Homo sapiens: one gene and its partners. The protein of the gene in region 2 purifies or fractionates together with the protein of the main gene of each other region. This does not show direct contact. Each region holds a gene or a part of one and is shown on either strand. Other genes may lie near its edges.

Evidence for each region.
Region 1: the proteins of HRG (region 2) and FBN2 purify together in Homo sapiens (affinity purification with mass spectrometry; one large-scale study listed by BioGRID and IntAct). This does not show direct contact.
Region 3: the proteins of HRG (region 2) and CRTAP purify together in Homo sapiens (affinity purification with mass spectrometry; one large-scale study listed by BioGRID and IntAct). This does not show direct contact.

Annotation. Positions count from the first base shown.
Region 1 is NC_000005.10:128,259,730-128,262,305, reverse strand, and holds part of FBN2 (fibrillin-2 precursor), read left to right. Parts: intron 1-398; coding exon 399-570; intron 571-2,476; coding exon 2,477-2,576.
Region 2 is NC_000003.12:186,672,361-186,676,018, forward strand, and holds part of HRG (histidine-rich glycoprotein precursor), read left to right. Parts: intron 1-426; coding exon 427-507; intron 508-2,728; coding exon 2,729-2,830; intron 2,831-3,658. UniProt on the Homo sapiens protein: Plasma glycoprotein that binds a number of ligands such as heme, heparin, heparan sulfate, thrombospondin, plasminogen, and divalent metal ions. Binds heparin and heparin/glycosaminoglycans in a zinc-dependent manner.
Region 3 is NC_000003.12:33,120,514-33,124,171, forward strand, and holds part of CRTAP (cartilage-associated protein isoform 1 precursor), read left to right. Parts: intron 1-3,658. UniProt on the Homo sapiens protein: Necessary for efficient 3-hydroxylation of fibrillar collagen prolyl residues.

The DNA of each region.
Region 1 (2,576 bases), on a different chromosome or scaffold from region 2:
AGGAGAATCGCTTGAAGGCAGAAGTTGGAGACCAGCTAGGGCAACATAGCAAGACCCTATCTCTACAAAACATGAAAATTAAAAAAAATTAGTTGGATGTGGTGGTGTGTGCCGGTTGTCCCTGCTAATTTGGAGGCTGAGGCATGAGGAGCTCTTGAGCCCAGAAGTTTGAGGCTGCAGTGAGCAAGATCGTGCCACTGTACTCCAGCTTGGGAAACAGAGCAAGACCCTGTCTCTAAAAGAAAAATAAAAGAGTTGCAAAGAATATTAGGGTTTTATGTTTATGAGTTTAGTGTTTGCTCTGTTGGTTTCGTGTTTCTGAAGAGTCTGCTCTACCACTGGAAAACTATGGTCAAGTCAGTGATAAAGTCTAACAATACTTTGCTTTTTGCAAATAGCCACTGTGTCTCAGGAATGGGATTTAACAAGGGGCAGTACCTGTCACTGGATACAGAGGTCGATGAGGAAAATGCTCTGTCCCCAGAAGCATGCTACGAGTGCAAAATCAACGGCTATTCTAAGAAAGACAGCAGGCAGAAGAGAAGTATTCATGAACCTGATCCCACTGCTGTGAGTATATCCCACTCTGTGTTGCCACAAAATTTTATCCCTACGGAGTCATGTATACAGTGCAGTTCACGTCGTTTTCAGCCTCACTGAAGTTAATCATACCTTGAATTTAATGGATAAATTAATGGACCCAGTATGGAAAAGACAAGTAAATTAAAGTGATTGAATTATTAGATCAAAACACAAAGCTTGGGAGAAAAGACTTTAAGATTCACAGTTTCAGAGCATTTTCTCTTGTTGTAGTTTTTGATTTATGTGGGAGGGTATGTCCATCTCGGGAAGAGCTATTTTTACATGATTCAAAAAATGAAATTATTTTTAATTTGTTCAGTTCTGTTTTATAAATGTATAGCATACAAGGCTGATTTTAATTTTCACTAGGGAAACCAAGTAGGTCTCATATTCTTTGTTTTATTTTTAAGACAGTTGTTCCTTCATTAAGAAGTTTTGTCTTCCAAATCACTTGTATTCTTTAAGGAACTGAAGTTGGAAATTGCGAGCCACTGATATTTCCTTTCCCTAATTGCATTTTGGCAGTGTTTAAAGGGGTGGGCTGCAGACTACCTGGTTTTGAACGTAACTCCCTGGCCCTCCCTATCTGTTACCTCTGTTACATAGTTTGTGTTTATTTAACTTCTCTCAACCTCAGTTTTTTCACCTGTAAGATGGGAATAATAATACCTCTGAAGGCTGATGGAAGGGTTAATTGAATTGAAACATGTGAACTGCCTGGAACAATGCCTGACATATATATCACATGTGTTCAGTTCCTATGAATGATTAATATCTCATATCTAGAGATCTTGATGATTTTCCCAAAGATCTGAGACAGTATGAGGTCGTCACTCACCACTCTCTGCAGTTAATATGACTGAGAAATTACCCCACCAAAAAACCTAATCAACAACTGGCTGGCTGTGTGAATTGGACAACTTGCTTCAGTTTTTTGGGCCTCAGAATCTTTGTCTATATGACCTGACTTGTCTAGCCAAAAAGTTCATGATGCTATTTTATAATAATAAATAAGCCAGTGTTACATTTACCTTAAGTAGACTAAGATACCCAACTGATGTTTGACAGTTGAGATATTCATCAAGTTCCCAAACTACAAATCCAGAAGTTCTGCTTATAAACTTTCCCATTGGGGTACTAGGACATAATTCTGCCTGAACACTGATGGGCACTTCTGGGTCACCACTGCCAAGTCCTCACTTAACAGATGCCCAATCAAAGCATTGTGGTTTTTATCCTATCTTACTTTGATATATTTGTGCTCCTCCCAACCCTCTGAGCAAAAGTCAGACTTGGTTTATCTGGGCCCTGCCCCACTGGCTTTTACCAAAGATGCTGGTTTGAACTGGAGCCCTGAGAACTCTGCAGATCACTCACTCTGTGTACCTCTGATAGCTCCCAGTAAACTCACTCATCATTCACTTACCTTACAAATCAAAGCCCAGCTTTCAGACAGAAGATTCCCCTGGGCGCATTCCCTGCTGATGCCCAACAGCAGTACTTCTTATTTTGACTCCAGAAAAAAAAAAATCATTACCTAAATTTTAGTTTTTAAAAATTATTAATTAGCACAATATTTCATAAACTCATCAAAAAAAACTTGAAATGGGAACACTCTGTAAGCCCAGTCCTGTACCTTTAATTACCTTGTTAAGGCTGAGTGAGAAGTCCTAAAGATTTACAGGGTATTCTCGATGGAATTGGCCTTTTCTTCCAACTGACAAAAATGTACAATAGCCTCTTTCACAGCCACTGCTGGTAAGGAGAGTGCAGAAAGCGGGAGTGGGAAGCCACAGCCTGTCCTCGTGACCAAAGCCCCTGCAGCTGATCTCTTTCTAGTCCTCTGCTTGTGCTGTAGAAGCTTGTCCCAAATCATTTCCTGTTCTTCCTCCAGGTTGAACAGATCAGCCTAGAGAGTGTCGACATGGACAGCCCCGTCAACATGAAGTTCAACCTCTCCCACCTCGGCTCTAAGGAGCACATCCTGGAACTAA
Region 2 (3,658 bases):
GTTTGAAAACATATTGGTATAGGAAAATGCAGGTTATAGAACAGTACTTAGACTATGGACCCATTTATATGAAACACTTAGATCTCCCTGTGTATGTGTAACACATCTAGGAAAACACTCGAAGAGGAAACACATCAAATAAATGAGAATGAAAACTCTGGGAAGAAGTTGGAGTGCAGGAGAGGTGATTTTTCACACTCTACTTTATCATATATTTATTATTTGAACCTTTTCAGTGAACTGGTATTCACCTTATCACTTAGGTGATACATTTTTAAAAGGCAGAAACCATTTTAAAAAATGACACATACTGGTGATTTTGAATTCTCATACTGCCTTAAAAAATATTGAATGGTAGTTATCTACTGCTTTTTTTTCCTTTTTCTTTGTCTGTTCTTGAAACTATTTTGATCCCATCTGTTCTAGAGAGGAGGGGAAGGAACTGGTTACTTCGTGGACTTCTCTGTGCGGAACTGCCCCAGACACCATTTCCCCAGACACCCCAATGTGAGTATAAGAAATGTCTGTGATCGTTGACTAGAGTCACAGAGAAAAAAGAAAGAGAAGAAGGAGAAGGAGAAGGAGAAGGAGAGGAAGGAGAAGAAGGAGAAGAGGAATGAGAAGGAGAAAATGAGGAGGAGGAGAAGGAGGAAGAAATGTCTGTGAAATACAAAGTATCATCTGGGAAGCACTTAGTACCTGCCAGGCACTCTTCTAAGTGATTTACACATCAGATAACTTATTGTTTTGTTTTGTTTTTGAGATGGAGTTTCGCTCTTGTTGCCCAGGTTGGAGTGCAATGGCACAGTGTCGGCTCACTGCAACCTCCGCCTCCCGGGTTCAGGCGATTCTCCTGCCTCAGCCTCCGGAGTAACTGGGATTACAGGCATGCACCACCACGCCCAGCTAATTTTTGTATTTTTAGTAGAGATGGGGTTTCACCATGTTGATCAGGTTGGTCTCAAACTCCTTATCTCAGGTGTCCACCCACTTCGGCTGGGATTACAAATCAAAGTGCTGGGGTTACAGGCGCAAGCCACCATGCCCAGCCTATGATAACTTATTAACCCTCACACTACCATATGAGATAGATACCATTTTTAATCCCAAATTAGCAGATAGGGGAACTGAGGCACAGAGAACATAAGCGAACCATAAGAACATGATTTTATAATATACATGATATATACCTAAACTTAAAACTAAGTTTCTAACTGATTAGGATTAAAGGCTTAGTTAGAACTATAGCAGTTCGTACTAAGACCCTACGCCAAGTGGTTTTATTAATTCCACATCATCACACTCACAGGAATCCCACTTGACAAATGAGGAGGTAACTGAAAATCAGCAAAGGAAAGGTCTTGCCGATGTTCACAACCAAGCTGAGATTAAAACTTAGTTATTCTCATACAAAGTCCAGTGGGATTTTTCCTCTAATCATTTACAAATAGATTCCCATGTACCTGCCAGAAGACATTATTAATACCACCTGGCATTTGCATGGTGACCTACAGTTAAAGAAACACCTCCACATCTGTTATTGCCAGGAGAGCCTCATGAAAATCCTGCTGACAAGGAAAAGCAAGTATCTGCCTACATTTCCTGTGACAAGGGGACCTGAAATTAAAACCACTTACCTAAAGGCACTTAGCTAGAGAGTGTTAGGAAATGGAATTTTAATTATGATGCCAAGTCCAGGATTTTTCTGAGGTTTAACAACACATTCTCCCTGGTCAAAAGGGAGAAACCATCCATTAGTACCTTTGTTAGCTCTTCTAATGTCCACACTGAACCAGGTCTAGAAACCTTCTTAGCGCCCACCAGAAAAGACACCTCCCTCCCCTACTCCTATGGCCAACAAACCCTTCATGATCTTGGTGTGGATAATGTAAACCCAGAGTTGAAGCACCAGAGCTGAAGAGGAGGCTCAGGGGTAAGTGTTTTACAGCATCCTCTTGTTTAATTAATCCCTCCCACAACCTGTGAGTACATAGTATTATCCCCATTTTACAATGGCTGACTTTCAGAAATCTTTTGTAACTTTCCCAAACTCAGACAACTAGGAAATGGAGAAGCCAGGATTAACATAGGTCTCTCTGATTCCCAAACTGTACTCAGAACCTCAATGCTTAGCAATTTCTTCTAGCAGACAGCCGTCCTCTTGTCCTAGTCGATCTTTCACAGGTGGGTTTAGGAGCATCTGGAGCACAGGAGTGGCAGCCAGTTGTAGCCCTGGCACTTGGGTGGAGTCAGCAGACACTTGCCTTGACAATGTCCATGAAAACCCATCTTTATGCTATACAGATGCCCTCCTGTCCAACACTTTCCTCCAAGGGACCAGCTGAAGTTGTAAAAATCCCTCTTTGACACCATTCCTCATTGTCCTAGGCACAGGCAACTGAGGTCTCCAGTGCAGAAGGGTTGGCCTAAAGGCAAGGCAGCAATGATGTGGTTTTCCTCATCATTTCCATCACCCATGGGGAAGCCCAGTGCTGGTGCCTGCTCATGAAAAAAACCACAGCAACTTTAGTGATACCCTTCACCACCTGCACTTTCCCCAAAGTGTTAACAAGGAAAGATTGCTGAACGACTGGTGGGAATATCTGATCATATTACCCTGATTTTTCTAAAGCACTTCTTCCTTTTCTGAATGTCTGGAAGCTAACTCTGGCTGGTCATCTTCACACCACCTGGACACACACACTAACAGCTCCTCATTCCTTTGTAGGTCTTTGGATTCTGCAGAGCAGATTTGTTCTATGATGTAGAAGCCTTGGACTTGGAAAGCCCGAAAAACCTTGTCATAAACTGTGAAGTCTTCGACCCTCAGGTGGGTTGTCTAAGCAGACTTTGTCATGGCAGTGCCAGATTAAGTGACATACGTACACAAATAGTGTTGTTGCTTCCTAAAGCTCTATGAGTGGGTGTGTGTGTGTGTGTGTGTGTGTGAGAGAGAGAGAGAGAGAGAGAGACAGAGACAGAGACAGAGAGAGGGAGACAGGGAGAGAGAGAAAGAGAGAGACAGACAGACATGCAAGAAAAAAGATACAGAGAGTATCCCACAACTGGGGAAAGGAGTGCAATTGCCAGATTACACAAAAAGTATGAAAACTTTTCCAAGAATTGAAGAGGGGTAACAATTGGCAGAAAATTAAAATCATGTCCAATTCAACCAAACTTGAAGGAATTTGAAAATGCTCTTTGTAGTCGGGACTCTAGTGCTGAGACTTAGTCATTCCTAAGCTTATATTATTGGGCATAGAATCTAAGAGGAATATATCAGCCTCAAATTTATTATGTAAATGTATATAAAATAAGATGCAAAACCATATTTTGCATCTGTCTCAGAAATCTTTGGTCTATTTTTTACATGAGTACAAAGATTTGCTTCACGAAATTTTTCATATCAGAAACAAAACTTAAAATAATCCAAACATCCAATCCCAAGTTAAAAAAAAGAAAAAGGAACAAAGGGCAGGATTGTCACCATGAACATGGCTCTGTCTTTTTTTTTTTTTTTTTTTTTGAGAAGGAGTTTTGCTCTTATTGCCCAGGCTGGAATACAATGGTGCCATCTCGGCTCACCACAACCTCTGCCTCCTGGGTTCAAGCGATTCTCCTGCCTCAGCCTCCTGAGTAGCTAGGATTACAGGCATGC
Region 3 (3,658 bases), about 150 Mb from region 2:
GGCAGTTAGTGGCAACCTGGACTGTTAAAGAAATGTCTCTCCATAAGCAGCTGCTGATAGCTAAGGACCTCTAGTGATTTTTGGTGACATTTGCTGAATATTATGACAATAGAAATGATTGACTTTTAGCACAAAGTGATCCATTTAATAATGATATTTTGTATGCCGTGATGATTTTAAAAGCCATGTTCCCTTTAAATGCTACATTTTAGAAATATGGTCATTTAATTATTTAGTTTTAAGAGGGTAGATTAAAGACATATCTTGGAAATCATCTAAAATGACCAGGAACACAAGAAATAGAAACATAAATCTCCAGTTTTGATGAAATGAGAAGGCATATATTTTTATACACACTTGCACACAAACGCACCCTAAATATATTAAGGTAGAAAATGAAGACGAGTTAGGAAGGCTGATGTGACAGAGTAGAGGACACTTAAATCTGCGCATCTACGAAGAAGAGTTTTGATGAGAATTAGTCGTAAGAACAACAATAAGAAAGAACGATCTCGCCCTTTTGAGCACTCACTATTGTCAAGGTCTTCTGGAACTCAGGCACTGGGGGCCTGGGTTTCAAGCAAGGGCAGGGCATTGTTGAAAATGGGAATTTGGCTGGGCACAGTGGCTCATGCCTGTAATCCCAGCACTTTGGGAGGCCGAGGCGGATGGATCACCTGAGGTCAGGAGTTTGAGACCAGCCTGGCCAATATGGTGAAACCCCGTCTCTACTAAAAATACAAAAATTAGCTGGGCGTGGTGACTCAGCATGTCTGTAAACCCAGCTACTCGAGAGGCTGAGGCAGGAGAATCACTTCATCCCGGGAGACAGAGGTTGCAATGAGCTGAGATTGCGCCACTGCACTCCAGCCTGGGCGACAGAGCGAGACTCTGTCTCAAAAAAAATGAAAGAAAATGGGGATATGTGGAAAATATCCACTAGAAGTTATAGTTCCCAAGGCCTGACCACAGGGTTTTCTGTAGAGTGATCAGATCTCAGGCTCACTTTTTGACTGCTAGGGAAAATGTATGTGTGGAAGTCTCTTTTTGGGGGTATCTGTCAGTTTTCCAGGGAAGACTTCACCAGCCTTCTGCAGGGCTGGTGGGGTGCGCATACTCCTCTGCTGGTGTCTGAGAACCAGTGTGGGGAGAGGGACAGGGTCACCCAGGTGAGTAGGAATACTTCACCTGCTTCCTGATTTTAGCCTCATGCCTCCACTTGGCCTCTGCTACGTCTGGTCCCTGACTCCTCAGCCTTTATGGGTAAAGTCTCTAGAATAAACTGCCACTCTCTGGTGAAGAGTGGCTTTGGGAGATATGATCTCTTGGGTGGGTGGGTAGGTGCTGGGAGCGGACCCAGGACCCCAACAGCCTGTTCAAACTTGCAGCCCTGCTTCTAGCTCCATGCCTTACCCCAGCCTCCCGTGGTCCCTCATGCCTGCGCATGCCAATGGGACATATAGCTTGCTTCCCCTCTGGCCCCTCCTTTGTGACTATTTCACTTCCTGCCTTTCCAAAAGTTGTTGAAATCTCATCTGCTGCTTGCTCCCTTCCCATTCTCCCATAAAAGCAATTTATGCCTTTCATAGTCTTCACTGTTGTTTTCATAGGGTTTGGGGAACGAAGCCGAGTGCGTGTGGTCAGTGCCCTGGGCTTATCTGGAATTCAGCTAGTCCTGTTGGCCCTCACTGGAGCCCTTTTGGGGTGGCTGTGCTGCCCTCCTGTGTGATCAGGGGCCTCCTCTTTCTGCTTGGTCCTTCTTGCTGCTGCTGCTGCCCCGCTGCTTCTGCAGAACCAGCTGTCTGGAGTTGGCTACTTATTGACCCATTCTTCAGGAAAGGCTCCTTCAGTTCTCAGCCTGTCTTATTTCCAGGGCATGTGGCCTGCCCAGGAGGTTTAAGAAAATCCACCCTCGGCCAGGCGCGGTCCTCATGCCTGTAATCCCAGCACTTTGGGAGGCCAAGGTGGGTGGATCACGAGGTCAGGAGTTCAAGACCAGCTGGGGCAAGATGGTGAAACCCTGTCTCTACTAAAAATACAAAAAAATTAGCCAGGCGTGGTGGCAGGCACCTGTAATCCTAGCTACTCGGGAGACTGAGGCAGAGAGAATTGCCTGAACCCAGGAGTTGGAGGTTGCAGTGAGCTGAGATTGCACCACTGCATTCGAGCCTGGGCAACAGAGCAAGACTCTGTCTCAAAAAAAAAAAAAAAAAAAAAAAGAAGAAGAAAATCCACTGTCTTTACCTGAGGCCTTAAGCTTGGTGAAAATTCTAGGTCTAAGGGGTGCCCTCAGATACCACCATTCCAGAGCAGCTGAGAACTCCAAATGGAGGGTCCCATGCTTATTCAGGGCCTGTCCTGGCCTCTGCAAGTTAGCAGGTTTTGTGTGTATCCAGGATCTCTACTTATTTCTTGGAGACCAAGCTACTTCCTTGGTCCTAGTTTATTTCTCTCTCTCTTTTTTTTTTGAGATGAAGTCTCGCCCTGTTGCCCAGGCTGCAGTGCAACGGCACGATCTTGGCTTACTGCAACCTCCACCTCCTGGGTTCAAATGATTCTCCTGCCTCAGCCTCCTGTTATTTCTCTTCTAATCGAGTCTAATCAACAATTAGCAGAAAGTCCTTGAAGTTTCCACTATCTGGCATGTGGTTGCCCTTCCTAGTAACTAGTGCTGATGCATGGTGGCACTTCTGTTTAACTGCATTGTCGGAGGAAGTGGGGTGACAGACACCTGCTGATATGGTTTGGATCTGTGTCTCCACCTAAATCTCATGTCCAGTTGTAATCCCCAGGGTTGGAGGTGGGGCCTGGTGGGAGGTGATTGGATCATGGGAGTGGATCCTTTATTAATGGTTTAGCACCATCCTCTCTGTGCCATTCTCATGATAGTGAGTGAGTTATCATGAGACCTAGTTGTTTAAAAGTGTGTAACACCTCCCCGCTCTCTTCCTTCTTCTCTGGCCATGTGAAGTGCCGGCTCCCTGTTTGCCTTCTGCCGTGATTGTAAGTTTCCTGAGGCCTCCCCAGAAGCAGAAGCTGCTATGCTTCCTGTATAGCCTGCAGAACCATGAACCAATTAAACCTCTTTTATTTATAAATTACCCAGTCTCGGTTTTTTTTTTTTTTTTTTTTTTTTGACAGAGTCTCGCTCTGTCACCCAGGCTGGAGTACAGTGGCACAATCTCAGCTTACTGCCACCTCCGCCTCCTAGGTTCAAGTGATTCTTGTGCCTCAGCCTCGTGAGTAGCTGGGACTACAAGCATGTGACTACACCTGGTAATTTCTATATTTTTAGTACAGATGGGGTTTCCCTATATTGGCCATGCTAGAGGTATTTCTTTATAGCAATGTGAGAACAGACTAATATACCTGCTCTCAAACTTACATTTTTCTTTTCGTTCCATTTTAAAAACCAGTTTTATTGAGGTACTATTTATATACAATATATTTATCAATTTTAAGTGTATAATGCAGTAAGTTTTGACAAATACATCCAGTCCTGTAACTGCCATCATAGTTACGACATAGAATATTTTCATCACCCCTGAACAATTTCCTCTTGTCCTTTTGTAGTCAAGTTTTTGCTGTAACCCCTGACTTCTGGCAGCCACTGATCTGATCTCTGTCATAGTTTTCCCATTTTCCTTAATTCAGATTA